Linked DNA regions of Homo sapiens. The protein of the gene in region 2 purifies or fractionates together with the protein of the main gene of each other region. This does not show direct contact. Each region holds a gene or a part of one and is shown on either strand. Other genes may lie near its edges. The genes, in order: DKC1, NOLC1, TCOF1, NOP58, RRP1B, E2F3 and NUP153.

Region 1 (3,486 bases), on a different chromosome or scaffold from region 2:
GAATTTTGTATGGCCTCGAATGTCCAACAGCCATGGCCTCTGATTTCAACACATCTGTCCTACCATTTGACCCAGGGCGGGGGCCAGAATTGACACACACACCACCACCCATTCCATCACTGTGTTGCTGCCATAGCTGAGGTAGGAGTCGAGGCCCATCTGATTCCTGAGCCCACATTCCTCCTCCCAGCAGATAGGACAGAGAATACAAATCAGAGGAGCCTGCAGAGCCCAAACAAGCACCCCAGGGTATGAGGCAGCATTACCTGTGTATGCGCTGCACCTCTGATGCTAGCGTATATGGCTGGACTGCGGACAGTCACAAAGTAAGACGAATGCCAGTGCCTCTTAGGATTATCTCCCTAAGCACATTCCAAACTGAGGACAGCATGCCACTCACCTTCGCAGTTTTTGCTGCTTCGGCAACTACCTGCGGGGCTTTTACCACTTCAGCAACCACCTCTTTTTTGGCAGACTCACTGAAAAAGAGGTAGCAATAGGTCAAATTCACTGAATGGCTTTCCAGGGCAGTACTGATGTTATGTAGTGTTATCTGGCAAGTCTAAAGCCACCATCAAAATACTGACGCTGGACAGAAGAACTCACCACTTACTGTTGCAGACTGACTCCCTCTAGAGTCCCACGAGCCAGACTAGAAAGGGATAACTGTCTGCCGTGCAGGCCCACACCCCTAACTGGCCTGGGCAGCCAAAATCTCACGGGAGCTGAAGAGCTGGTTCCTGTGGTCCTGCATTTAGCAAGTTTGCCCCAAACCAAGTGACTCCCCCTCCCCTGGGCTCTACAACCTCCATGCTCACCTGTTCCTCACCTGTTGTCCATGTACTCCTGCGTCCAGATGGCAAGTGGGCTCTACCTTCCCATCCTCACCTGTTGTTGACATACTCCTGCATCAAGGCAGCAAGTGTGCCGTCTCTACCCACCCCGGCTCTGAAACATCCTGCCCTCACCTGTAGTCAACATACTCCTGCTTCCAGGTGGCAGGTGTGCTGTCTGTGGGCTTCCCATGCTTGTCCAGAAGGCCCTGCTTGATCATCAGCTTCTTCTGACTTGCCTGGTGGAACATCAAGGTGTCAACATTAGAATGGTGTCAATGCTGGAAGCGGGCATGGTGACTACAAAGAATAGAACAAGGTTCCTCCCTGGTGTATTCTCAGCAGGGCCTCAAACTCCTCTCCAGAGCATTCAGAATTTGCCCACTAACTCCAACACACACAGGACTTGTTGAAGATCACAAAGCTTATTAGTGAGAGCCTCTGCAGACATAACGTCCCCACCGCAGCCACTCTACTTTTTTGCCTTTGCACATGCTGCTTGCTCCCAATGCCCTGAACTCTCCCCTCCCCTCTTCACTTCACCAACACCTAACCCACTCTTCACACCGGTGTGGCTTAACAGACAATCCCTTGACCAGACTCCTTGACCACTGTGGACACTCCAGGTGACAGACACCTCTCTGCACTCCTTGGTAGCCACTAACGTGCATGAAATTCGCCATTCCACTGTGTGATTACGTGAGTAATGCCCAACTGTTTCCCCTCATTAGACTGAAATCTCTAAGGCCCAAGACAGGGCCTGTTTCCACTCATCGACAACCCAGAGCCCAGCACAATACAAGGCTGTGGTGGTGAAACACACCAAGAGCTGCCCAAGTATTCAACAATGCCAAACAAAAGAACCTGGCAGGAGCCGCCCCATCCGGGAGGGAGGTGGGGGGGGGTCAGCCCCCCCGCCCGGCCAGCCGCCCCGTCCGGGAGGTGAGGGGCGCCTCTGCCCGGCCGCCCCTACTGGGAAGTGAGGAGCCCCTCTGCCCGGCCGCCACCCCGTCTGGGAGGTGTGCCCAACAGCTCATTGAGAACGGGCCAGGATGGCAATGGCGGTTTTGTGGAATAGAAAGGCGGGAAAGGTGGGGAAAAGATTGAGAAATCGGATGGTTGCCGTGTCTGTGTGGAGAGAAGTAGACATGGGAGACTTTTCATTTTGTTCTGCACTAAGAAAAACTCTTCTGCCTTGGGATCCTGTTGATCTGTGACCTTACCCCCAACCCTGTGCTCTCTGAAACATGTGCTGTGTCCACTCAGGGTTAAATGGATTAAGGGCGGTGCAAGATGTGCTTTGTTAAACAGATGCTTGAAGGCAGCATGCTCCTTAAGAGTCATCACCACTCCCTAATCTCAAGTAATCAGGGACACAGACACTGCGGAAGGCCGCAGGGTCCTCTGCCTAGGAAAACCAGAGACCTTTGTTCACTTGTTTATCTGCTGACCTTCCCTCCACTATTGTCCCATGACCCTGCCAAATCCCCCTCTGTGAGAAACACCCAAGAATTATCAATAAAAAAATAAATTTAAAAAAAAAAAAAAAAAAAAAAGAACCTGGCAGGGCACGCAACCCAGTACCACTTACCTTTGGACCTAAACCCCACTTCCGAGGGTAAGTGTCTCTCTCCATGATCACTCTCTTGATCTTGGCTACTATACCATGGTCGCAGGTAGAGATGACCGCTGTGGTCATTAATGCAATAGCTACAGGCATTGAATAAAGAAAAGAATTATTTGAAGGGTGAAAGAATTGATAATTGATGAGCCCCAATTCTACTGTTGTATGCCACTTTAAAACTTTTAAAACTCTGAGCTACTACTTTAATTGGGGTTACCTTTGCTCAGGATGTGCATATGGAGGAAATACTCCATTATGAGAAGGAGGCCTTTGAAATGACGTTAAACTTCTGAAGTTAAAAAACACCTAACCAAAGCACCTAACGATACACATAACAGGCTTGCAGCTCAAGACGTCTATAAGAACGGCATGCACACTCCCTTTGGGGCCACAGAACCTTTGAAGTTTTAAGGATTCCTTTTCTGCTGCTGTCCATAAGCCGTGGCTGCCTTGCCTGCTCACAGAGCTAAGGAATCCTGATGACATGCTTACTTCTGGTACAAATTAGACCCATTAAATGAATAGCTCTAAGGTTCATTCACTAAGAGGGTGCGCAGAGCATTTAAAGTCTTAAGAGACAATCCAACAGTAGCTAAGCTTTCACAAGTTAAAAAACACTGGTACTTTACATGGAACCACAAAAGACTCAAAATAGCCAAAGCTATCCTAAGCAAAAAGAACAAACCTGGAGGAATCACATTACCTGACTTCAAATTATAGTATAGAGCTACAGTAACCAAAACAGTATGGTACTGGCATAAAAACAGGCACATAAACCAATGGAACAGAATAAGGAACCCAGAAACAAATGCACACACCTACATTTAACTCATTTTTGACAAAGGTGCCAAGAACATACACTGGGTAAAAACCAGTCTCTTCAATAAATGGTGCTGGGAAAACTAGATATCCATATGCATAAGAATGGGAGAAAATATCCGCAAACTACCCATCTGACAAGGGATTAATAACCAGAATATATAAGGAACTCAGCACTATAGGAAAAAAAATCTAATAATCTGATCAAAA
Region 2 (4,323 bases):
ATGGGTTTTTTTTGCTCCTCTTCCTCGTCACTGGAGGAATCCTCACTGCTAGAACTCTTCCGGGTAGGGGTGGTAGCTGCTTTCACTGGGGCCTTGGCCACAACTTGCTTTTTAGGTACAGTCTGCATTAGAAAGAAAATTGATTACCACAGGAAAATGCTGACCCAACCAATCCTGCCAGGGAAGGAAGACACACACACATCACACCCTGGTCACCTCTGCCCTGACAGAAGTTATGGTCCAGACCTTCTTGGGGGTGGCTGCTGCCTTCTCCTCCTCTGAGTCATCACTGCTACTGCTGCTGCTGCTGCTACTGCTGCTACTGGCTGCTTTACCATTGGCTATTTTAGGTGCTGCTCGAGCTGGAATACCCAAGAAAAAGAAAGAGTAAGGAGTATTAGGGCAAGTCAGGACCATGAAAAACCTCCTTCCTATGAGCAGAGAACTTAGGAGTCCACCATTTTTTTTTTTTTTTTTTTTTTTTTTTTTGGAGACGGAGTCTGGCTCTGGCTCTGTTGCACAGGCTAGTGTGCAGTGGTTCAGGCAACTCTCCCGCCTCAGCCTCTGGAGTAGCTGGGATTACAGGTGCCCACCACCATGCCCAGCTAATTTTTATATTTTTAGTAGACACAGGGTTTCGCCATGTTGGCCAGGCTGGTCTTGAACTCCTGACCTCAAGCAATCCGCCCGCCTCAGCCTCCCAAAGTGCTGGGATTATAGGTGTGAGCCACTGTGCCTGGCCAGGAGTCCACCAATTCTTTCAACTTTAGAGCAGCCATCGAGGAGAATGCCAGCCATGGTTTACCACATCAAAGGATACCTTTCCTATCCCATGGCAGGAATAAAACTGTCTTCTTAGAAAAGATGACATAAATAATCTCAATACGCCCTCTAAAATCTTTCACTTCAACCTCCATTCAGAGAAATAACCTAACCCTCATCACAAGTTACAGAAAAAAAGAAAAATTCTCATTTGTCTCATAGAATGAACATACAAGAGTAAAAATGGCAGTGAAAAGCACAACAAATAGATATTTAAGTGATTACAGTGGAATGGGATGTGTGAAAACATAAAATGTCTATGAAATGTCACAAAATACCAAATGGATACCATTAAAAAAAATACACATTTTTTCTTGCTGCAATAACTTTCTCTATTTACTAGCTCCTATGAAATCTTGTTATTTATTAGTAAAACCTTTAAAATTAAAAGACCAGTAATCAACACCTCCAGTTCAACAAACAGTACCATTTCACCCCTGTGCCAAATCGGCAATTTTAACTCCAGTCCCCAGAGCAATCTGGTCCCCAGCCCAGCCTCTTGGGAACAGAAACAGTACCTGGTTTGGGAGGGGCTTTAGTCTGAGCTTTAACTGTCACAGGTGTTATCTTTGGCTTCTGGTTCTTTGGTGGCTCATCCTCGGAGCTTGAGTCAGAATCAGAATCAGAGCTCTTGGCCTTCTTAGGAGGAGCTTTGGCTGCCTTGGCTTGGGGCTTAACTCCCTTCTGTTAGAAAAGACACAAGGAGAGAAATCAGCAAAAGCTTCCGGGTACCCAAAGGGCATCCTAGGTTCCTTTTATTTTTAGGGGCCTAATGGAGCAGTAAGAGCAAAAGAAAGCTAAGGACAGGATACGGAAAGGGCAAAAAACAACAAAGTTCAGCCACTTGATACACTGGCCCTGTTCCTGCCTTATCCTGCCAAAGCTCCCAGGAAAACACTCTCTCTTATTCTTGGAGCCCTGAATAGTGTCCCAGAAGAACCCAAACTCCTCAAGCAGAATGGGTTTAATTTCCTCTAGATTCGGAGCCTGACCTCAACCTCACACATCCCTTCCAGACCTCATACTTTTATCAGCTCCCTGAAAATCCCCAGATTTTCTTCCTCATAATCACCTATTGTATTGCCGCCATCACCCCTTGGTTACAAGCTAGAGGCCAAGATTTTAGGTTTCTTCCTTTCTAATCCTTAAACCCCTTTTTCTTCCCAAAGCTGCAAACCTGGACAGGCTGTTTCTTTTGGTCCTCCTCATCATCATCATCACTGGACTCTTCACTGCTGCTACTCTCTGATGCTTTGGCTGCAGCCTTCCCAGGAGGCAGACCGACTCGCTTGGCAGGTACAGCTGAACAAACACACAGGTCCCAGTAAGAATCAGCCATGTGAAACAAGCAGGCTGTAAATTCTTTTCCTGGCACCACCAAGCCCACCTGCTACTCTGCCTTACCAGCCTTCTTTGCTGGAGGCCCTTGAACTTCCTCCTCCTCCTCGCTGCTGTCCTCACTGTCACTGGATGAGGCCTTCTTCTTAGCTTTCTTAGCCACTGGTCCATTTGCCTGTAACTTTCGCTCTGGGACCTTGGCAGACCTGCTGAGGTAGATTGGACCAATTTCTAGGGGACTGGAATCTTCCCAAACCAAGAAACACAGCCCAGCCTATCTTGGGGGAGAAAATAGCCAAAATGGAACAGGAAAGGCTTACTTGAGCCAGAAGCTATAGATGTCTAAGAGGGAAGAGGCATTGGCATCCTGCTGTGTCTGTAGAAGAAAAAGAGCTGGGTAAGGAAATTATTTTATCCTGGTTATGCTTTCATTAAATGTGGCCTGTTACATACATAATTACTAAATTTGGTATAAATGTTACATCTTCATAAAACTTTTGCTACGTGCATAAATCAGGAGAAAAATATTCTATTTGTGGATTTCCCAATTTCTGATGTAAAAAACGGGCTACTCCTATGTTTGCGGCACCATCTAACCATCTAACCCCCTGCCTGCCAATCTATATTGATCAAAGTCCTAAAACAAAACAAAACAAAAAATCAGCCAGTCACGGTGGCTCATGCTTGTAATCCCAGCACTTTGGGAGGCCGAGGCAGGCAGATCAAGAGGTCAGGAGTTCAAGACCAGCCTGGCCAACATGGTGAAACCCCATCTCTACTAAAACAAAAATTAGCCCAGCATGATGGCAGATGTCTGTAGTCCCAGCTACTTGGGAGGCTGAAGCAGGAGAATTGCTTGAACCTAGAAGGCTGAAGCAGGAGAATCACTTGAACCTAGGAGATCGCGCCACTGCACTCCAGCCTGAGCAACAAGAGCAAGACTCCATTTCAAAAAAAAAAAAAAATCACTTTTGACTGGGCACAGTGGCTTATGCCTGTTATCTCATGTTATCTCAGCACTTTGGGAAGCTGAGACAGGAGGATCACTGGATGCCAGGAGTTCAAGACCAGCCTAAGCAACATAGCAAGACCCCCATCTCTACCCCTCTGCCAAAAAAAAGGCTCTCTCTTTACTCTAGCAATGTACTATCTAAGAATGTAATCTTATCCATTACTTGAGGGTACAAACACTAATACAAGAAGGTTTTTCCTGCAATGTGGATTATAATACCAAATCATTAGAAATAAGCCTCCAGGCGGGATGCAGTGGCTCACGCCTATAATCCCAACACTCTGGGAGGCCAAGGCGGGCAGATCGCCTGAGGCCAGGAGTTCAAGACCAGCCTGGCCAACATGGAGAAACCCTGTCTCTTAGCCGGGTGTGGTGGCAGGCGCCTGTAATCCCAGGTACTCGGGAGGCTGAGGCAGAAGAATCGTTTGAACCCCAGAGGCGGAGGGTGCAGTAAGCTGAGATCGCGCCACTGCACTCCAGCCTGTGCGACAGACCAAGACTCTGTCTCAAAAAAAAAAAGAAAGAAACAAGACTAGTAAGTACTGTATTGAATGTAAAGAACTGCATTTAAGGGCCAGGCACGGTGGCTCAGGTCTGCTGTAATCCCAGCACTATGGGAGGTCGAGGTAGGCAGATCATGATGTCAGGAGTTTGAGACCAGCCTGGCCAACATGGTGAAACCCCATTTCTACCAGAAACACAAAAAATTAACTGGGCATGGTGGTGCACACCTGTAATCCCAGCTACTCAGGAGGCTGAGGCAGGAGAATCGCTTTAACCCAGGAGGCTGAGGTTGCAGTGAGCCAGTATCACACCATTGTACTCCAGCCTGGGCGACAGAGTAAGTCTCAAAAAAAAAAAAAAATGCATTCAGGCCGGGCGCAGGTACGCTAACACTTTGGCAGGCCAAGGCAGGAGGATCACTTAAGGACAGGAGTTCAAGACCAGCCTGGGCAAGACAGTGAGACCTCCATCTCTCTCTCTCTCTCTTTTTTTTTTTTTGAAATGGAATTTCGCTCTTGGTCGCCCAGGTTGGATTGCAATGGCACTGCGGTTGCTTGGCCTGTGGTGGCTAAACGCCTGTAATCCCAACACTTTGTGAGGCTGAGGCGGGTGGATCATCTGAGATCGGGAGTTCGAGACCAGCCTGA
Region 3 (4,323 bases), on a different chromosome or scaffold from region 2:
CCCCTCTGCCTCACCTGAGCAGGCGCCTCCTCCTCACTGTCCGATTCCTCGCTGCTGCTCTGCGAGTCCTCCTCCCGCTTCCCCGCCTGGGCCTTGGCAACTGCAGGCCCTGTCTTCCCAGGGGGCGCTGGGGCAGCTCCTTTCCTGGGGGACTCCTTGGCAGGGGCTGAGGCAGCTCCGACCTGAGAGGTTTTTCCTGAGGCCTTCGCCTGGAGAAACAAGACAAGGGGAGACAGCCCAGAGGATGGACGTGTGAGGAGACACAGGACACCACGTACAGAAGACCAGATAGGGCAAATGATGCCACACAGTGAGAGGGGAGTAAGGGGCTGGGGTCTGAGGCACGCCCGGGGCTCTGGCCCAGAGTGGGAGAACAAGTCCTGAGAAGGCCTTCTGGGGACGGGCCTGGCTGCATGGAGTCTCCCTCCTCAGGCCTCACCTGAAGCAGGGCCTTGGCAGCTGGCGTCTCCTCCTCACTGTCAGATGACTCCTCGCTGCTGCTCTCTGAGTCCTCCTCTGGCTTCCCTGCCTTGGTCTGGGAGGCTACAGCCCCTGCCTTCCCAGGGGGTGCTGGGGTAGCCCCTTTCCCAGGGGTCCCCTTGGCAGGGGCTGAGGCAGCTCTGACCTGGAGAATTTTTTCAGAGGCCTTTACCTGGTGAAAAAGAAAGGGCAGCTTGCTCTCCTGCTTGTGAAAACTCTCTGGTGATGCCTTTAGGATAAAGTCCAGAGGCCTTAATGAGGCTCCTAAGACCTCCCCTGCTTCCCTCCCCACTCCCCACCTTGACTGATACTTTGGCCACACTGGCCTCCTGGTTTCTCAAAAATCGATCAGCTTCACACACTCTCACTCCTGGAGCCTCCATGCCCCCTGTTCCATTTCACTTAGCCACTGCCTCCTCTGTCTCTGGCTCCCTAAGAGACACCACTTCCTTAACATGGTTCCCCCTGGTGCCCCAGCACACTGGGTAGTTAGAGCCTGTCCTCTGCTGGGCTCCCACTGGCCAGAGAGCTCTGGAGGCACAGGCACTGGCTTATCGGGAGCATCATCAGACTGGGCTGTGGGGAGGGGGTGTGCAAAGGCCCAGGGAAGGGAAGGAATGAAGAGGCAGTCTGAAAGTGGGGAAGGGACTGAGGGAGGCCCTCACTGGACTTTCTGCACATGGACAGCAGCAGGACCCCTGGAAGCCCACCCTCAGCCTCATGGGGCAAGGTTTGCACACCTGGCCCCCTCTTCACTAACTCCTCGGTGGGGCTCTGCACTGTCTTGGGGCTTTGGCAGGGTGGCTGCAGGCCCTGTCTTCCCTGGAAGGCCCTGGGTGTTCAGCCCTGGGCCAACAACCCTAGAAAACAGCAGCTCTGATCTTCTAAGAAGCTTCTCATGCAGAAAGTGCAGGCTGCTCCACACAGGTCTTGCTTGGCTAGCTCCTTTTTAAATTTTTGAGCCAACATGGAGAAAGCAGATTTTACATAAAAGTTCACATTTATGGCCAGGTGCGGTGGCTCATATCTGTAATCACGGCACTTTGGGAGGCCAAGGTGGGAGGACTGCTTGAGTCCACAGCTTGTGAAACACAGTGAAACCCTGTCTATACACACACACACACACACACACAAGCTGGGTGTGGTGGTGTGTGCCTGTATTCCTAGCTACTCAGGAGTGAGGCTGCAGTGAGCTATGATTGCCGCTACTGCACTCCAGCTTGGGCAACAGAGCAAGACTCTGTCTCAAAAAAAAAATTCACATTTGTGTTCCTTCTCAAAGTGGATGCCCATCCAACACTGTGTAGCCCCCAGACACTGCAAAATAGACAGCCGAGGCGTAGAAGTTCCCTGTAGATGGGGTGGGAACAACAATTTGTCACAATTCGTAGTCCTACTTCTACCTCAGGGCCTTGACACTTGCTGAGCCCCTGCCTGGAATGACCTTCCTAAGAGTGCTTCCTCCTTCTGGTCTTTACTGAGACGCCTTCTCCCAAGGCCAGCCCAGAGCACTCTGCTTCAAGTTGCCATTCCTATGTCCCCCACTTCCTCTTTACCATTTACCAGCAGCTAACGCAGGGGATCTGCTTATCTACTGCATGCCCCCGCCTTGTCCTGCCCCAGGCCTGGGGCTGGGTGGGTGACCCTCACTCTTCCTCCTTCCTGCTCTGACTTCCATTGCTTTCCAGCCCCCCTGTCTTGCCCTTGGGATACACCCAGGGCCTTGGGGCTGCAGCCCTGCCCACTCCCAGCAGATGGGGAAGGGAACTGGATTCCCTTTAGCTAACGTAGTGTTTGCCTGCTCAGGGTCTGGTTTGTCCTGAGAAGTCAGAGGATTAGGCAATCAAAACTTCTCAAGTCCCTCACAGCAGGACTGGCTGGGACGAGGACAGCGGCCCATTTACTAGGCAGAGAAACTGAGGTAAAGTTGGTCACAGACAAAGTGGAGTGCAAGACTCCCCTGTGGGAAGCAGGCTGTTCTTGCTCTTCAACTTCACACCATAGTCCTCCCTCTCCCCAACTCCAGTGGCAGAGGTGCTCATGGCAGAGTGCTCAGGCTGCTGGGGGACCCGCAGGTCCTCCAAGGGGCAGCCCTCCTCCAGGCCTCACCTGGCTTCGTGTCCCTGCAGGGGCCTCCTCCTCACTTTCAGATCCCTCCTCACTACTCTCTGACTCCTCTTCTGGCTTCTTGGCCCTCTTGGCTGGGGGCAGGGCCCCTCCTTTGACCTGGGGTGTCACATCCCCCACCTTCCCAGGGGCTGGGGCCGCCTTTCTTGCTGGAGACTCCTTAGTAGAAACTGATGAGGCTTTGACCTGGGCTGGTTTTACTGAGGGTTTCCCCTGGAACAAGAGGATGGAATTAGAAAATGAATAATAATTACTGTTTCCCCCTAAGGTTCTGTATTAGGGGCTTCAGCAGTTGATAAAGCTCTTTCCTAATGTCACTGGATTTTTAAGCAACTCCCTGAGACGGCTATTAGCTTTAGATCCATTTTCCAGAAAAGTACACAAGGCTTAAAGAGGTAAAATCACTCATGATCAATATGAAGGGACAGAGCCCCACTGGAACCCTGGACTGTCTGACTTTGGAACAGATCTCAAAACCATTACGTTCATCTCCCACCTGGCACACACCGGGCTTGGCCTGAGAGAAGGGCTTGCATCTCAATCAGGAGAGCGCATCCTGTCTGCCCCTTAAACTCAAGTATCTGATCACAGCAGCCCTCCTGAGGGCCAGGAGTTCAGGATGTGAACACCACCTCTGCCACTGGCTTGCCACACCTTGGGCAAATTCCTTCCCTCTGTGAGCTCTTTCCTACACTTCCACAATTCAGACATTTCCCAGGCAGTCAGTGCCCTACTTCTACCTCTGAGATCCATCAGACCCCTTGCGGCCCTGGGTTTCTGGGGCGTCTGCTACTGGAGCTCTGCACAGCCTCAGCCCATTGAGGTTGTGTGTTTATGGAGGGCTGGGAGTGGTCTTCTTCCCTTTGGCAAGGCCTGGGGTGACAGAAGCCAGGGATGTCCTTACAGCTGGTGGTATCTAGGGCGCAAGGGTGAGGACGGAAGGTGGAGGGCAGCCCTTGGTAAGGCCTGGGGTAGATGGGGGTGAGCTTTCAACCTTCACAGGGTTACTGGGCCAGGCAGCACAGTAAAGTGAGAAGTTCCCTGGGCACCAGATCAGTTCATCCCTGACTTGTGCTGGTTTTCCCTTGAAAACATCTTTCCAACTGTGGACACCTTGGTCTCCCAGCCCCCAGCCTCTTATGCCAGTATCAGTATTACTCCAATAGTCTCCTACATGGTCTTACTGCTTTTATTCTGCACTGCCCTCCAACCCAGGCTGCAGCCAGCAATCTTATTAAATGCAAATCAGGCCATCTCTCCTTGCTGGCATGGCTTCTCACAGCCCCTAGAATAAAACCCAAATTCCTTATGGTGGTCCTCAAGGTCAGACAGAAGATCTGGCCCCTGTCTACCTAGGACTTCATCTTGTGTCACTTTCCCCATAATTTATTTGTTTTTTTAAAAAATAACATCTTGTAGAGACAGGGTTTCACTATGTTGCTCAGGCTGGGTTCAAACTTCTGGCCTCAAATGATCCTCCTGCCTTGGCCTCCCAGAGTGCTGCACTTACAGGTGCGAGCCACCGTGCCTGGTTTCTCCCTCTCATTTAAAGATCAAGGTTTTGGCCAGGCGTGGCGGCTCATGCCTGTAATCCCAGCACTTTGGGAGGCCAAGGCACATGGACCACTTGAGGTCAGGAGTTCGAGACTAGCCTGGCCAACATGGTGAAACCCTGTCTCCACAAAAAATACAAAAATTAGCCAGGCGTGGTGGCGT
Region 4 (4,323 bases), on a different chromosome or scaffold from region 2:
TTGGAGACAGGGTCTCACTCTGACACCCAGACTGGAGTGCAGTGGCGCAATCTCGGCTCACTGCAACTTCCGCCTCCCAGGCTCAAGGGATTTTCCTGCCTCAGCTTCCTCCCAGTAGCTGGGATTACAGGCATGTGCCACCACGCCCGGCTAATTTTGTGTTTTTAGGAGAGAGGGGGTTTCACCATGTTGGCCAGGCTGGTCTCGAGCTCCTGACCTCAAATGATCCACCCACCTTGGTATCCCAAAGTACTAGGATTACAGACATGAGCCACCACACCAGGCAACAGTGTCATCTTAAGCAAGGTTTTCTTATCTGGTAAGGGAACATACTAGTGTGGTCCCTTAAATATACATACAAATACGAAGATTTAGGCCAGGTGTGGTGGCTCACGCCTGTACTCCCAGCACTTTGTGAGGCCGAGGCAGGCGGATCGCCTGAGGTCAGGAGTTTGAGACCTGCCTGACCAACATGGCGAAACCCTGTCTCTACTAAAAATACAAAAATTAGCTGGGCATGGTGGTGGGCACCTGTAATCCCAACTACTTGGGGGACTGAGGCAGAAGAATAGCTTGAACCCAGGAGGCGGAGGTTGCAGTGAGCAGAGATTGCGCCATTGTACTCCAGCCTAGGTGACAGAACAAGACTCTGTCTCAAAAAACAAACAAAAAAACCAAAGATTTAACATCTACACTAAGAATGAATCTTCCATGAAATTGTGATGAAAGAAAAAGTAGTTCATGCTAGTTTTGATGTTGCAAAACTCAAAAAGCAGGTTACAACCCCTGTGTGCGGTAAGTGCTTAGTTAAGATAAAAAAGGTATTACATTTGTGTGTGGAAGACACGAAGACAAATGTGTTCCTACTGACAGCAATCACATTTGGTACTATCCGAGGTTTAAAGTATCCACAGGGTCTTCTGGAACATAATCCCTGTGGGTAAGGGGGAGACTACTGCCTTCAAATTAATTGAGATGGCCTATATTCCAAGTAAAACATTTGTAATAATTAGGTTCATACCAAAATTATTCCTGAAACAGATTTCAAAACAGAAAACTACGAATGTAACATTATATAAATCAGGGAAAAATGTAAAAAATAAAACAAGCCCTAAATGTTAACTGCTAAATTATTGATTTCAAGAGTACTTACATTTTGTTTGCTTTCTCTGGAGTTTCAAATTCTTTCCATAAACTATCAACCTCTTGAAGTTTCTTCTCATTTAGAACCTGTAATAAAATGTTTAAATAGTTTTATTTAAATGGTACAGGTGAGGCATATACAGCTGCATTCTTCAAATACAATTTTACATGTAAAATGAAGGTGTAGAAGCTATTTCTTTCACTAAGATAATGAACTAGTTTTCTTACCCTGCATGTAATTTTGGTCAAATTACTAGTTCGAATTGCCCATTTAACAGCTAAATGGAATTCAGATCTAGTCCAGTCAGCTGTAGTACAGTGGCTATTCAGTCTAGAATCTACCTGGCCTCAAGAGATATTCCTGCCCCAGCCTTGGGCCGTAGCTGGAGCTATGGGGTCCTAGGGGGTAGGGCAGGGAACCTTTCTTTTTATTTTTTTGAGATGGAGTCTCGCTCTGTAGCCCAGCCTGGAGTGCAGTGGAGCAATCCTGGCTCACTGCAACCTTCACCTCCTGGGTTTATGAGATTCTAGTGCCTCGGCCTCCTGAGTAGCTGGGATTACAGGTGTGCACCACTGCACCTGGCCGAGAACCTTTCTTTTAAAAGAGCCATTAATCCCTTTACAGTAAAGTATTGTAATCATTAAAAACTTTAATTTGCGCCAAGCATGGTGGCTCACATCTGTAATCCCAGCACTTTGGGAGGCTGAGGCAGGCGGATCACCTGAGGTCAGGAGTTCAAGACCAGCCTGATCAACATGGAGAAACCCCGTCTCTACAAAAAAAAAAAAAAAAAAAAAATACAAAATTAGCTGGGCGTGGTGGCACATGCCTGTAATCCCCGCCACTCGGGAGGCTGAGGCAGGAGAATTGCTTGAACCCGGAGGCAGAGGTTGCAGTGAGCCGAGATTGCGCGACTGCACTCCAACCTGGGCAACAAGAGCAAAAAACTCCATCTCAAAAAAATAAAACAAAAAACAAAAAAAACTTTTGTCTACTTTCAATAGATTATATTCGTTATTTACTGCTATGATCATCCTAACATGAAAGTATTATGGATTTCTCTAAAACTATCGTCAATTGTGAGACACATCTAGATGTGAGAAATTTTTTAAATGCAAAAGAAACATAGGGTACTTTAATCAACAATATACTTATCAACATTTAGGTATATATTCTCCAAGACTTTGAATGTCTGTGCAACACATGTTCATGCATACTTTTAGGAATCACAGTAAATGGCTTTTTTTTTTTTTTTCTGAGATGGAGTCTCACTCTGTCGCCAGGCTGGAGTGCAGTGGCGCAATCTCGGCACACTGCAGCCTCCGCCTCCCGGGTTCAAGCGATTCTCCTGCCTCAGTCTCCTGAATAGCTGGGATTACAGGCACGCACCACAACACCCAACTAGTTTTTGTATTTTTAGTAGAGACTGGGTTTCACCAAGTTGGCCAGGCTGGTCTTGAACTCCTGACATCAGGTGATCCACCTGCCTCGGCCTCCCAAAGCGTTGGGATTACAGGCGTGAGCCAACACACCCAGCCGCCTTGTATTGTTTTGAAGCAAGACCTAGACATTTAATTTTTACCTGTTAATATTTCAGTTTGTATCTATAAAATATAAAGACTTGTTTTAAAACTAGTACTGTTGTAACAACAATGCTAAAGATTGCAATGGTAATAGTTGTATACTATTTCTACTTAGAAATGGAAATTATCTTAAAATGATAAAACTTAAAATGGATTTCTGTATACAAATATTTATCATTACCCTGGCTGAAAAGAAATGATTAAAAATTTGAGACAAATAAAAACTTTGAGACAAATGTAATACAGAAAATGTAGCAATATCTCTAACTTTCTTATTTAGATGGTCTTTATTAGCAATGTTTTCTTCAAGATGTTGCAGTTGGGAACACAATGGTTTTATTTGTCATAGTAATGGTTTTGGCTGACATAACATAGTCTTTGAAGACCTTTGTGTGCTCATGAATTGCCCTGATTTTATCACATTTCCTTTGTTATTTTAACTTCAGTTTTAGAATGGTGATAGTATTTTTTAATTAATTTATTTATTTATTGAGACGGAGTCTCGCTCTGTCGCCCAGGCTGGAGTGCAATGGCAGGATCTCGGCTCACTGCAAGCTCCACCTCCTGGGTTCACGTCATTCTCCTGCCTCAGCCTCCAGGACTACAGGCGCCTGCCACCACACCTGGCTAATTTTTTGTATTTTTAGTAGAGATGGGGTTTCACCGTGTTAGCCAGGATAGTCTCGATCTCCTGACCTCATGATGCACCCACCTCGGCCTCCCAAAGTGTTGGGATTACAGGCGTGAGCCACCCCGCCAGGCCGAAAGTATCTTTTAAATATGGCAATTTTGTTACCCAAATGTTATCTTCAAATATACTTGCTTTTCAGCTAGAAAAAATGTGAATTTTACTCATGAGTCATATCCCCTATTTGATACATGTCCTCTTAAAAATAGTGAACTTCAGTTATGGTTAGCTGCATTCTCTGAACAATTTCAAAAAATTTTAATCAGTGTTTTCAGTATAGTCATGAGACTTGGTGAGGTGTCTCTGGATTCTAAAACTTCATGATATACAAAGTTAGAGCTATTAGTTTATAAATTGTTAATACCAACTCTAGGCTTTGTAGTTGTTTATTGCTTTGTGTGACTCTAAGTTTTTCTAGTTTGGGTTATTTTTACCAACATATCTAATTCAACCATGTGTGATTAAATTTATACAGGCTGGGCACGGTGGCTCATGCCTGTAATCCCAGCACTCTGGGAGGCTGAGGCGGGCGAATCACGAGGTCAGGAGATCGAGACCATCCTAGCTAACACGGTGAAACCCCGCCTCTAACTAAAAATACAAAAAAATTAGCTGGGCGAGGTGGAAGGCGCCTGTAGTTCCAGCTACTCGGGAGGCTGAGGCAACAGAATGGCGTGAACCCCAGGGGGCGGAGCCTGCAGTGAGCTGAGATCGCGCCACTGCACTCCAGCCTGGGCGACAGCAAGACTCCGTCTCAAAAAAAAAAAAAAAAAAAAAATTATACATCAGAACAAACCCCTAAAATCATCTTGTCACTCATCTAAGTTTTATACAACTTGCAACATTGTGTTTCTCTTACTGAAAATAATATATAACCAGACTAGAACTGCGTCTTAATGTGTAGATGT
Region 5 (4,323 bases), on a different chromosome or scaffold from region 2:
TGAGGTCCTCACCAGAAGCAGATGCTGGAGCCATGCTTGTACAGCCTGCAGAGCCTCGAGCCAAATAAACCTCTTAGCGTCAGGTGTTCCTTTATAGCAGCGCAACAGACTAAGACAGTGATGCAACTGGAAGTGCAGGAGCATTAACCAGCTTAAACCCAAAGAGAGGATTTGAAGGACCCAGGTTACTGCATGGGGTCAGGCTCAGGGCACTCCTTGTCCTTGCTGGGCAGCTACATTGGGATTTCCCTCCAAGGCTCTCCACCTTCAAGCAGGGTGTGGAGGGACTCTGTGGTCTGGGTGGGGCTTACCCCACGTGGAGAGGCGGCGGCTTCTGCCAATTCAGCAGAATTCCCTTGGCCACAGGACAGGTTCAAGAAAAGCCAAGTGACCCTCTGCAGGTAAAAATCTTCTTGCTCAGTCCTTAGGAGTTTCTAGCTCTCTCCTTACTGGACTTGAAGAGAACACACAGTTTGTACCTGCTCCCAGCCACCTTGTAACACAGGTGGAGCCTGTCTGAGAATGGAGACAATCTTTGGGGCAGCAGAGGTTGCAGTGGAGAAAAACAAGGTGCTGGCACCAGCAGTTGAGCTCCTGCACAAAGTTGTGCTTCACTTTCCCCCTTAAAACTAGCATGGCTGCCAGGCCTGGTGGCTCACGCCTGTAATCCCAGCACTATGGGAGGCCAAGGTGGGGGGATCATGTGGTCAAGAGACTGAGACCATCCTGGCCAACATGGCGAAACCCCGTCTCTATTAAAAACTACAAAACTTAGCTGGGTGCGGTGGCAGGTGCGTGTAATCCCAGCTACGTGGGAGGCTGAGGCAGGAGAATCGCTTGAACCTGGGCAGCAGAGGTTGCAGTGAGCCGAGATTGCACCACTGCACTCCAGCCTGGGCGACAGAGTGAAACTGTCTCCAAAAAAAAAAAAAAAAAATCCTTAATAGCATGAAATATCCAATCTGTTTAGTTTTTCTCATCAAATGTTTTTTATGAGCAATCCAAATGAGGACCACCCACTGCATTTGGTTAATATGTCTGCCAAGACGCTCTTAAAATCTAACAGTTCTTACCCATCTTTTTCTGTACAGTTTATTTGTTGGGGACATAGGTCATATGCCTTGTAGAGTTTCACATATTTGGGGTTTGTTGACTGCATCCTGTTGTCTCACTTACCATGTTCCTCTGTCCCCTGTATTTCCTATAAACTAATATTAATAGTTAAGATTTGACACAGTTGGGTGTTTTTTTTTTTGACACTTACTTTTGTAAGAATACTTCATAGGTTGGTGCAGCGTTCTTCCTGTTGGCATCACCTCTGGCATCTGATGCGTGATTATTGCCTGTGCATGTTAATGATCGGTCGGTGGGTTTGGGTGTTGATGGTCTGACACATCCACTTTCAAGTTTCTTAATATCGTTTGTTTGTTTGTTTGTTTGTTTGTTTGAGAGACAGAGTTGCTCTGTTGCCCAGGTTGGAGTGCAGTGGCACGATTATAGCTTACTGCAGCCTCAAATTCCTGGGCTCAGGTCATCCTCCCACTTCAGCCACCTGAGTACTTGGGACTACAGGCACATGCCACCATGCTCTGCCAATTTTTTGGTTTTGTTGTTGGTGTGTGTGTGTGTGTGTTTAAGACAGGGTCTTGCTCTGTCGCCCAAGCTCCATGGAGTACAATGTTGTAGAGATTGGGTTTTGCTGTGTTGCCCAGGCTGGTCTCAAACTCCTGAGCTCAAGTGAGCCGCCACGCCTGGGTGATATCTTTTCATCTAATGTTTTAGCAGCTATTTATGATCCTTGCCCAAAGCCTTCAATTCACTGGGGATATATGTGGTCTTTGAACATGATTAAATATAAGTGCAGGTCACTGTGGCCAAGAAAAAAAAAGTTACTGCAATCATGACCGCAGTTGGCTCAGCTCTAGTGGGGTTTATTACTCATACCATACTTACATTATCCACGTGAGGATCCCCAGGCATGACTTGTTCATAACAAGAGGGCAAGAGAACCAGTTGGTACATCTTCTCTCCAACTGTGAAAGGGAATATACTTTAATAAACTAGTTTTATGTTAGTTCCTGATATCCTGGTTTTACATGGAAAACTATCATAAAAGAATCAAAATGCAGGCCGGGTGTGGTGGCTCATGCCAGTATTCCCAGCACTTTGGGAGGCCGAGGCCAGCAGATCACCTGAGGTCAGGAGTTCCGGACCAGCCTGGCCAACATGGTGAAACCTTGTCTCCACTAAAAATACAAAAAATTAGCCAGGCGTGGTGGCACGCGCCTATAATCCCAGCTACTCTTGAGGCTGAGGCAGGAGAATCGCTTGAACCCAGGAGGCAGAGGTTGCAGTGAGCCTAGATTGTGCCACTGCACTCCAGCCTGGGCAACAGAGCAAGACTCTATCTCAAAAAAAAAAAAAAGAATCAAAATGTACCATTATAAAATTGTTGATGGGAGAAAGACCCTTAGCAAAGTGGAAATCAATACCTGTAAATTAAGGTTAACGCACTCTGAATACACTAAACAAACTTTGGTCCATTAAAAGGTCTTTTTGTCACTTTTTTTTTTTTTTTTAAGAGACGGACTCTCGCTCTGTCGCCCAGGCTGGAGTGCAGTGGCGCAATCTCAGCTCACTGCAAAGTGCAAACTCCACCTCCTGGGTTCACACCATTCTACTGCCTCAGCCTCTGGAGTAGCTGGGACTATAGGCGCCCGCCACCATACCCGGCTAATTTTTTTTGTATTTTTAGTAGAGACGGGGTTTCACTGTGTTAGTGAGGATGGTCTTGATCGTCTGACCCCGTGATCCGCCCACCTCAGCCTCCCAAAGTGCTGAGATTACAGGCATGAGCCACCGCGTCTGGCCCTTTTTGTCACTTTTTAAGCATCTTTTGGAGTATTAAGATCACATTGATTCTAAATATTTGTTTGCATTCATCTAGTTTATAGCACTTTGTTGCTCCAAAAGATTTCTCCTAGGATCTCCTAGTAAAATCCTAATAAAGACCATTTGTAACACACATCAAGACTTGAGGATTCTGTTTGTGTTCTAATTTCATGTATCCATAGGCTCGGAAACTCCAAGACTGTACACCTACCTTATCATTTTGTGATTCTTTATGTCAGTCAGCAAATACTTTATGACACCTGGGGTCTACTCAGGAGATTTAAGGCTGAACGAGACTGGTCACTCAATCATAGATCATGAAGGCAGAGGTAGAGCCCTGAGTAGCTAGAGTCAGAACAAAGCCAACCCTGGTGATGCTGCAGTAAATGATCACCGTTACAGGGAGGGTGATTGACAAAGCCAACCTGGTGATGCCACAGTAAATGATCACCGTTGCAGGGAGGGTGATTGACAAAGCCAACCTGGTGATGCCACAGTAAATGATCACCGTTGCAGGGAGGGTGATTGACAAAGCCAACCTGGTGATGCCACAGTAAATGATCACCGTTACAGGGAGGGTGACTGGGAGGCAGCCACTTTTGACCTTATACTAGGATCCTTAAAAGGTAATTTTTGCAAAAATATTCCAAAGCAGCGTCAGTGTCCCCAGGCCCTTTCCTAGGCCTTTGACTTTCAGATGTACTGTTTGGAGCTCCTGTGTCCTCAGCCTGGCTGGTTTTCTGTTCCTCGGAAGTGGGGCTGCCCGTTGCTGGGGCTTCATATGACTTGAGCAGGTCCCCCGCATCTCTTGTAAGATTTGCAGTTTTACTTCACAAGACCAGCGAAAATGTCAGTGTGCAGGATGGCTGCACGTGGTGGGCGGGGAGGGCGTTGATGAGGAGCCGATTTCATAAGTGGCCACTTTGTTCATGAATTTTGTGTTGTGATGACATTTGCTTCCTCACGCTGAGGCCGGGCCACCACTGCCACCCTACCCTGTAGCTGATAAAGCTGCAGGTACAGTAGTAATTTATTTGTGTTTCTTTTATAACAATAAGGAAATGTTTGCTTCAATTTTTTAAAAAGACGTGCAAACGAAAGAGAATTAAAATGTATGTGATACTTCACCACTTTCTAAACTTGAAGAAAAGAGATGCATAGACTCTAAGATGTTTGTATTGTTTTGCCTTCCAGGAGGTTTCAGTCAGGAAGAACTTCTGAAAATCTGGAAGGGGCTCTTCTACTGCATGTGGGTGCAGGATGAACCCCTTCTACAGGTAACATGCGTTCCCTTTGTCATGCTCCCGGGTTCTTGCTGTGGATGGATAAGAGACTTGATCACTCATGCTGTGCCAGTCCCCCGATACACTGACGCACACTGACAGTCATGCTTCAAGGAGTCATTTTCGTACCTCTTGTCCATACAGAAAG
Region 6 (4,323 bases), on a different chromosome or scaffold from region 2:
CCCTGGGAGATTCACATGTGTGCCCTAATGTACTCCAAGATTGACAACCGTGGCCTCCCCATCTCACGGCCCAGCTGGAGTCTGGTGACTCTCACCTGTTCCTCTGGCACTTTCTGTCGACACCACACAACTGAGGACTAGATGAGTCTTGTTTTCTCCCTACCGCCTGTTTAGTCTTGCTTGCAGATCAACTTGTGTTTAAAGCTTGTCTCCTCAACAGACTGTAAACTCAAGAGTGGGCGGATCACACCTCATACTTCTTTTGTATCCCCAATAGGACTAATGGGGTACCAAGCACATGGAAGGTGTCTAATGAAAATGCCTCTTCTCAGGTAGCTGAGCCTATAGTGTAGTGGGCACTGCAGGGACCACATGATGAAAAAGCAAGCCAGACCGATTTCTTGGAGCTTACAGGTTTGGAGGAGGAGTAAGTCATGAACATGCAAGATTAGGCTACGAGGCAGACCATGAGGTGTTACAGGAAAGAAGCAGTAACCCAAGGGAAGGGAGAGGCCCAAGCCCCTGGGAAACTGGGGGAGGCTGTGCCTACGCCTTCCCTTGATGTGGGCCTCAATGGGCCAGTGGGAGGAGGGCAACAAAAGGAGTAAGGTGGAGAGGGAGAAGCTACGAGCAAACACACCAGAGGGAAATCTGCGGTGCCTGCAGCACCACACTGTCGCAGCAGCCGAGTGCAGAGGAATGGGAAGCAAGACCGAAAAGGCAAGATTTCACCATCCCTTGATGGCAGGAAAAGGTGGTAATTAATTTGGTAAGTCCGGGAAGCAGCCACTGAAGGTGGCAAGTCTGCTTCCTTCTAAGAGCCAGGCAGAGGGCAAGGCGAAGGGGAAGGGGTAGGAATAGATCTAACATAAAAAAGGAGGGGTGAGGAGATGAGAAGGGAAAAGGGAGGCCTAGAGGCAGGTTCCATTGCCTCTGGAGAGCAAGACAACCCCCCGCCCTGCCTTGATATACACACACTGGCAGGGGCTCCGAGTCTGGCAGGGCCCAGCAGCTCAGACACCCTGATTCTTGCCATTCAGTCTTAAGCCATGGTTTACTGTACAGGATTGAAATTATGTTAATAGTGTCATTCATGCTAGTAGTGTCACTTTATTAATACATTTAATCACAGAAATAAAGGTTTTATTCATGACACTATCACTACTGATAGCACTACTACAAGAAGCTTATTCTTCAGTTCTTTTTCCCAAGTCAATGGGCAGCTTATAAAGAAATACAAAGACCCTAGACCCTAAAGACTGCATTAGGCGAGAGCCATTCCACGGTTTACTTCTCCTTCCCATCATCACCATTTTTAGAGAGGTGCAATGGGGTGAAATGAACACTAAGGGCTAGTTAAGAAAATAGATCAGGCCAGGAACAGTGGCTCATGCCTACAATCCCAGCACGTTGTGAGGCCGAGGCGGGCAGATCACCTGAGGTCAGGAGTTCGAGACCAGCCTGACCAACATGGTGAAACCCCGTCCCTACTAAAAATACAAATAAAATTAGCTGGGCGTGGTGGCGCACACCTGTAATCCCAGTTACGGGGGAGGCTGAGGCAGGAGAATCGGCTGAACCCAGGAGGCAGAGGTTGCGGTGAGCCAAGATTGCACCATTGCATTTCAGCCTGGGCAACGGAACAAGACTTGGTCTCAAAACAAAAACAAACCAAGAAAATGGATCACAAAAGGACAGCCCATGAGATGCCTGTGGAAGGAAGGGCAATTATACCATGTTTCTACTTAACACATAATCCTTCCTACGTGCCAGACACTGGTCTAAGCACTTTACAAATAAGAACTCATTGCAACTTCCTAACCCCATAAGGTAGGTACTATCATTCCTCCCAATTTACAGATGAGGAAATGAAAACATAGAGGCCAAGTTTCTTGCCCAAAGTCACAGGGCTAGTGAGCAGAGCCAGAACAAGAACACAGGCACTCTGGCTCCAGGCTAAGTGGCCTGACCTTATACTCAGCTGCCCCTCACTATGCCTTTTAGGACAGGGTGCAGGTTATAAACACATGAGCCTCCTTCTCTCCAAGGGACTGCCAGATGCAGAAAGGCACACAGGAGATAGTGTGGGCCTCAGGGATGCTGCTCTGGTTATGTATCAGAAATGGAGCCCCCAAAGCATCAGAAATGGGGAAGAGCAGAGTGGAACGAAATATACAGACCCTGAGTTCACTGCCCATCATTCTCAGAGTCCAGAGCTACCACCCTTCAGGATCATAAAAACTAGAGCAGGCAGAAGCTCTCCTCAGCAGAAAGTCAAGAGGCATTCAAATCCTCCACTCTCTAAGACAAACTCTACTCGCCAAAAAACTTTCCAGAGGAAATCAGCTTCACTGATTACTACTCTCATCAGTTGGTACTTAATGCTCACTGGCTGTTAGACCGTATCTACACTGGGCACCTTTCTGGTTTGTGGATTACAGATAAGCCATATATCGCTGCCCCTAACGAGTCAGTGCACTACAGCCACGTTAGATTATGTTTCACTTTCAGGCCTCAGGGCTTGAAGCAATTCTATTTTTAAGCTTTCTCAGTTCCAAAAAGGAAAAGAAGGCATTTTAAGGAAATTAGCGTTGGCTAAAGGAATGACAATTTCCTCTTAAAGAGTTAACTGATTAGCCACTTTGCTAAACCAGAAATCTTGGAGCTAACCACAGAGGAAGAACACCTTGTTCAATGTTACTGGGCAAGGGCTGGGGACCTCTGAAAGCATGACAGTCACTCAGGATGTTGGTGGCCCAGGACAAAACTCCGTTACTACCAGAGGGGCACTGTGTGTCCTTCTCCCCAAGAAAGTCTCAAAAATCCTTTTAGATTCTATTCTCTATGAAGCATGTGTCACTTTTTGAGCAACAGAATTGATATAACCACAGAAGACAAATTTGCGAATATCAAATAAATCTTTAAAAATATTACTATCACGTTTTGAAGAGTCATTCTTTCCTTTTTTAAATAATTCCCTTTCATTTAACATCCAAAGTAGCCTTGCTTATTTTGTATCTTTGGGAATAAGTCATTACCCCCACAGCCAACTGTTTAAAGGACACTTCTTTATGTGCGCATTTTTAAAAAAGGTAACCACTCCTGAAGGAAATCTAAAATGTGTCCTACACACCCCAATTTTCCCATATAGGGTTCATGAGACACAGTTAACCTTCTCTTGGTGAATGAGGCTTCTAAGAATTCAAGAGTCTCCCGTTTCGGTTTTGGCTTTGCCACTAGCAAAGACCTGTGACCTTGGGCAAGTAATTTAACAGCACTGGGCCTGAATTTCCTCACCTGCAACATGAAGGGGATTGGGCAGATGAGGACTCTTGTGCCTTACACTTCTCAAATGTTATGATTCCAAGACCAGTGTAAATGCCAACTATTGCCCATGCCAACCTAGAATATCGTTCTCAGGGACTGTCAAGTTCTAAGAATGTTGTCTAGACCACACAAATGGCCCCAGAGAGTTGGGCTACGGTAATGGAAAGCAGACTAAAGTCAATTATTTTTTATTCTTTTTGTCCCCTTTCTATTCCATCAGCTGCCAATTCTCACTGCTTTCTACCTCGAGCTGACATAAACCCCTGCCTTAGTTTACAAAGCTAAGTGGGGGCCTGCATCACTTAGATTCTTCATCAAAGCAAAGTGCATCTGGCTGTGTGATACAATCTGGCAACCAGTGGCCTTCATCACTTCTCCTTCAAAGTTACATTGCATTGGATAGGAGAGTATTTGAGGGCAAAAATTATATTTTTTAAAAGTTATATTGTAGACAAATATGGTGGCCATAAGACTGACCCCCAGTTAAGGTTGGGGAAAGAACGTACATTCCTTGAATTCCAAAAACACATTGCTTTTAGAGGAGAGGGTTTGAAACAAGTGTGAACAGAATATAAACCAATTTCCCTCTTATTGAAATAGAAACTCGGTATGTTATCCCTCTATAATAATCCCCACTCTGTAAGTTTCCTGTCCCCAAAGGCAGTTGTTGCTTTTTAGTACCTTCTGTGGTATAACTTTTCTTTGTGAAAGATACATTTTCCTCGTCACTTTCTGAAGCCAAAGAGAGGGTCAGGGTAGGAAGAAGGAGACACTATTAGTGGTTTCCTATATTTACTGCTTTCCCAGTTATCTTCCATTGTTAAGTCCCATGAACAATGATTAGTAGAAAAAATGCTTTTTAGCAATCGTGAATACAGTCTCTGAAACATTATTTTTAAACTGCTAACAAGAATGAAAATATGCATTAAACCACGTACTTAGTACCTCAAAGAATTCAGGGAAGATTCCCCTTTTTAAAAAACAAAATTGTGAAAT
Region 7 (4,323 bases), on a different chromosome or scaffold from region 2:
GTATGTCCTGCCTGGTATCTGATAGCTGGAGTGTTCTCAGATTTGAAAAGGAGGGATATTTAGAGGTCGAATATTTAAATCATTCCAGAAGTCACCAAGTTTTTAACTTTTATTTTATCCTTATTTGCTTTATCCTAGATGCTTAATATAATCAGTGGGAATAGAAATGGAAACATTGATAGGATTGGATAGTTGATAGGATAGTTGTTAGGAAAACATTGTAGTGTAATGGAGTCAGCCTGAGTTTGGATCCCTGTTCTGCCTGGACTTGGACAAGTTAATTTACTCATCTGTAAAGTGAAAATTGTTGTGGAGGTTAAATGGGACAAGTGAAGATTTTAGAACAGGACCTGGCATATGTATATAGGTAAGGAGTTATTAAAAATTGAGTCCTTATTATATATATGCAATTGAAATTTGAAATTAAATAGAACTGTTTGATTTAGGATCTTTTTTTTTGTGGGAGACCACAGTTTTATTATTACTCAAATTAGTCTCCTGATTTAGGGTCTTCATATTGTCTCTGAATTTTCCTGCTTCTTATCAGAAGTTTTGTTTCCTTTAGGTGACTAAATTCAATACTTGCATGTATTAAATTGTTTAATGCAAAGTAGGTGTTTTGTTTGTGATGAGAGGTTTTGTGTGGTATTATATTAATTTACTTAATTTTTCTAATAAGTGACAAAAAAGTCCACTTGCTGTATCCATTTTCTGGGAAGTCCCTGACAAGGCAGATATCTTAGTTTGAAGTAAAATAAAAATTGTAGTCTGATGTCACTAATTAAAACTGTTTACTTTTCTTTTTTTTTGAGACAGAATCTAGCTCTGTCACCCAGGCTGGAGTGCCATGCTGTGATCTTGGCTCACTGCAGTCTCTGCCTCCCAGGCTCAAGGGATTCTCCTGCTTCAGCCTCCTGAGTAACTGGGGTTACAGGTGTGTGCCACCACGCCTGGCTATTTTTGTATTTTTAGTAGACACGGGGTTTCACCATGTTGGTGTGGTGGTCTCAAACTTCTGACCTCAAGTGATCTGCCCTCCTCGGCTTCCCAAAGTGCTGGGATTACAGGCGTGAGCCACCTTGCCCAGCCAAAACCATTTTCATTAGGCACAGAGTATTGCAAAGATTGTAATTATCTTGTATTTTCTTTTTTTTTTTTTTTTGAGACGAGTCTCGCCCTGTCACCCAGGCTGAAGTGCAATGGTGCGATTTCGGCTCACTGCAACCTCCGCCTGCCAGGTTCAAGCAATTCTCCTGCCTCAGCCTCTGGAGTAGCACGCACCATTATTCCTGGCTAAGTTTTTATATCTTTAGTAGGGACGGGGTTTCACCATGTTGGCCAGGCTGGTCTTGAAGTCCTGACCTTGTGATCTGCCTGCCTCAGATTCCCAAAGTGTTGGGATTACAGGCTTGAGCCACCACGCCCAGCTAGCTTGTATTTAAAAAAAAAAAAAATTATTTGTAGCTATTTAGCTTATCTTCATGGTTGTAATATATTTTTAAAAGATTCTTCTGTGTTGGGAAGTTTGGTTTCAAGTCTTGCTGACACATACCATTTACTGTCAGAAACAGGATGATAGGATGCCTTTTCTATCTATAGATATTTCAGTTTGCTTGATTTTGCATATCTTTTTCTTAGTGTGATTTAAGAAACAAACTCTTACTCCCAATTTTCAAACATGTTACCTGAGAAAAAGTGTGATAGTATCTTGTAGGTAACTTTTAGTGAGTTTAACTACTGTGAGCTTTTATTGAGTTTTCTTTTTTTTTTTTTAAGACAGTGTCACTCTGTTGCCCAGGCTGGAGTGCAATGGCACGATCTTGGCTCACTGCAACCTCCGCCCCGCTCTGGGATTCAAGTGATTCTCCTGCTTCAGGCTCCCAGCTCTTTTTTTTTTTTTTTTTTTGAGACAGAGTCTTGCTCTGTCGCCCAAGCTGGAGTGTAGTGGCGCGATCTCGGCTCACTGCAAGCTCTGCCTCCCGGGTTCACGCCATTCTCCTGCCTCAGCCTCCCAAGTAGCTGGGACTACAGGTGCCCACCACCACGCCCCGCTAATTTTTTGTATTCTTAGTAGAGATGGGGTTTCACCATGTTAGCCGGGATGGTCTCAATCTCCTGACCTTGTGATCCGCCCACCTCGGCCTCCCAAAGTGCTGGGGTTACAGGCGTGAGCCACCACGCCCGGCTGCTCCCAGCTAATTTTTGTATTTTTTCGGTAGAGACAGGGTTTCGCCATATTCCCCAGGCTGGTCTCCAACTCCTGGACTGAAGCAGAACCCCTGCCTTGGCCTCCAAAGCACTGAGATTACAGGCGTGAGCCACGGTGCTTGGACCTGAATCTAGTTTCAATAATCTGAATTTAACATCCAAATCTAAGACATTATTGGTTGTATTTTATAAGCCTATGCCATTCAGCAGCGAAGTTTACCCTATCCAATCAGTCCAAGTCCTCTAGCCATTTAAAGTACTTTTCTAGCTGAAGAATTAAAAACCTGCTCCCTGGGAGAATAAGATTCCAGAACCTTAAAACTGATGATGGACTGCATTTGATATTTATAGTTAAAGATCCAGTGAAACTATTTGAGAAAGGAGATTTTATAATCTGAACACTGCTAAGGATAATGTGAAGAAAAGGGAGTTGAACAGAACTGAAGTCAAGAAAACTAGTAGGAAGAAAAGAGCTTTGTATAGAAGGAAGGAAGGATATATAGGAATGACAAGGAGTTGGCCATACTGAAAAGATGCCTCTGGTTATTCCTGTGAAAAGGTTTATAAGAAAAGAATGTCGTTAATTACAAGTGAGTTCTGAGTTAGTGTTATAGAATAGCCTTCCCCCACCCCAGCTGTTTCTGAGTTAGTGTTATAGAATAGCCTTCCCCCACCCCAGCTGTTTCTGAGTTAGTGTTATAGAGTAGCCTGCCCCCACCCCAGCTGCCTTTCATTAATCCTTTTTTTTGAGATGGAGTCTCGCTCAGTCGCCCAGGCTGGAGTGCAGTGATGTGATCTCGGCTCACTGCAACCTCTGCCTCCTGGGTTCAAGCAATTCTCCCTCCCTCAGCCTCTCAAGTAGCTGGGATTACAGGTGCCTGCCACCACGCCTGGCTAATTTTTGCATTTTTTAATGGAGACAGGGTTTCGCCATGTTGGCCAGGCTTGTCTTGAACTCCTGACCTCAGGTGACCTGTCTGCCTCAGCCTCCCAAAGTGCTGGGATTACAGGCATGAGCCACTGCGCCCAGCTCATTAATCCTTCAACTCAGGTTAAATATAATTTGAAAAGCTAATGTATTCACAATACCTTATACGTTGAATGTTCCTGATATGTATGTAGTATTGAATTCTAATCCCCAGATTGAATTTTTAATTAGTCTAAATCTCAGTGGCATTTTTGACATGTTTTGCCAAATGAAGAACCCTTCTTTCTTGGAGAGAGAATACCCAGTGGATTTAGCCAGTTCACATTCTAAAATTCACTCCTTTAATCCTTGAACTTAAATTTATTATTTATGATTATGAAGTGTGGACTTTGCTTTAGGGCCACAGAGTATTTTTTAAGATTAATTTTTTTTTTTTTGAGACGGAGTCTTGCTCTGTAGCCCAGGCTGGAGTGCAGTGGTGTGATCTGGGCTCACTGCAACCTCCGTCTCCCAGGTTCAAGTGATTCTCCTGCCTCAGCCTCCTGGGTAGCTGGGATTACAGGCGGACACCACCTGCCAGCTAATTTTTGTAGTTTTAGTAGAAATGGTATTTCACCATGTTGGTCAGGCTGGTCTCAAACTCCTGACCTCAAGTGATCTGCCCACCTCGGCCTCCCAATGTGCTGGGATTACAGACGTAAGCTACTGCACCTGGCTGTTTTTTAAGATTTTATTTATTTGTTTTATTTTTTTGAGATGGAGTCTTGCTCTGTGGCCCAGGTTGGAGTGCAGTGGCGCCATCTTGGCTCACTGCAAGCTCCGCCTGCCGGGTTCACGCCATTCTCCTGCCTCAGCCTCCCGAGGAGCTGGGACTACAGGCATCCACCACCACACCCAGCTAATTTTTTATATTTTTAATAGAGACGGGGTTTCACCGTGTTAGCCAGGATGGTCTCGATCTCCTGACCTTGTGATCCACCCGCCTCGGCCTCTCAAAGTACTGGGATTACAGGCGTGAGCCACCGTGCCTGGCCTTGTTTTTAAATCTTAAAGCACTTTTCAGGTCCATACAGAAAGCTTATTTCCCTCATGCCTGCTTATTTCCTGTAAAGACCTGAAGAACTCTTCTCTCAAGAACTCCTCAAAACATAGGTGGGTTACATTGGGCCTTCCTTGGTAGTAAGGTC

The links.
Region 1: the proteins of NOLC1 (region 2) and DKC1 purify together in Homo sapiens (affinity purification with western blotting; 2 studies listed by BioGRID and IntAct, with this or other methods). This does not show direct contact.
Region 3: the proteins of NOLC1 (region 2) and TCOF1 purify together in Homo sapiens (affinity purification with western blotting; 4 studies listed by BioGRID and IntAct, with this or other methods). This does not show direct contact.
Region 4: the proteins of NOLC1 (region 2) and NOP58 fractionate together in Homo sapiens (co-fractionation; 3 studies listed by BioGRID, with this or other methods). This does not show direct contact.
Region 5: the proteins of NOLC1 (region 2) and RRP1B purify together in Homo sapiens (co-immunoprecipitation; one large-scale study listed by IntAct). This does not show direct contact.
Region 6: the proteins of NOLC1 (region 2) and E2F3 purify together in Homo sapiens (pull-down; one large-scale study listed by IntAct). This does not show direct contact.
Region 7: the proteins of NOLC1 (region 2) and NUP153 purify together in Homo sapiens (affinity purification with mass spectrometry; one large-scale study listed by BioGRID and IntAct). This does not show direct contact.

The regions. Positions count from the first base shown.
Region 1 is NC_000023.11:154,772,188-154,775,673, reverse strand, and holds part of DKC1 (H/ACA ribonucleoprotein complex subunit DKC1), read right to left. Parts: intron 2,544-3,486; coding exon 2,425-2,543; intron 1,073-2,424; coding exon 969-1,072; coding exon of another isoform or gene 965-968; exon of another isoform or gene 480-964; coding exon 401-479; intron 1-400.
Region 2 is NC_000010.11:102,155,232-102,159,554, reverse strand, and holds part of NOLC1 (nucleolar and coiled-body phosphoprotein 1), read right to left. Parts: intron 2,537-4,323; coding exon 2,481-2,536; intron 2,370-2,480; coding exon of another isoform or gene 2,367-2,369; coding exon 2,227-2,366; intron 2,125-2,226; coding exon 2,000-2,124; intron 1,507-1,999; coding exon 1,341-1,506; intron 363-1,340; coding exon 247-362; coding exon of another isoform or gene 217-246; intron 123-216; coding exon 1-122. UniProt on the Homo sapiens protein: Nucleolar protein that acts as a regulator of RNA polymerase I by connecting RNA polymerase I with enzymes responsible for ribosomal processing and modification.
Region 3 is NC_000005.10:150,370,503-150,374,825, reverse strand, and holds part of TCOF1 (treacle protein), read right to left. Parts: intron 2,821-4,323; coding exon 2,590-2,820; intron 653-2,589; coding exon 440-652; intron 210-439; coding exon 15-209; intron 1-14.
Region 4 is NC_000002.12:202,272,020-202,276,342, reverse strand, and holds part of NOP58 (nucleolar protein 58), read right to left. Parts: intron 1,231-4,323; coding exon 1,154-1,230; intron 1-1,153. UniProt on the Homo sapiens protein: Required for the biogenesis of box C/D snoRNAs such as U3, U8 and U14 snoRNAs. Part of the small subunit (SSU) processome, first precursor of the small eukaryotic ribosomal subunit.
Region 5 is NC_000021.9:43,665,798-43,670,120, forward strand, and holds part of RRP1B (ribosomal RNA processing protein 1 homolog B), read left to right. Parts: intron 1-4,086; coding exon 4,087-4,169; intron 4,170-4,323. UniProt on the Homo sapiens protein: Positively regulates DNA damage-induced apoptosis by acting as a transcriptional coactivator of proapoptotic target genes of the transcriptional activator E2F1.
Region 6 is NC_000006.12:20,407,971-20,412,293, reverse strand, and holds part of E2F3 (transcription factor E2F3), read right to left. Parts: intron 1-4,323.
Region 7 is NC_000006.12:17,696,321-17,700,643, reverse strand, and holds part of NUP153 (nuclear pore complex protein Nup153), read left to right. Parts: intron 1-4,323. UniProt on the Homo sapiens protein: Component of the nuclear pore complex (NPC), a complex required for the trafficking across the nuclear envelope. Functions as a scaffolding element in the nuclear phase of the NPC essential for normal nucleocytoplasmic transport of proteins and mRNAs.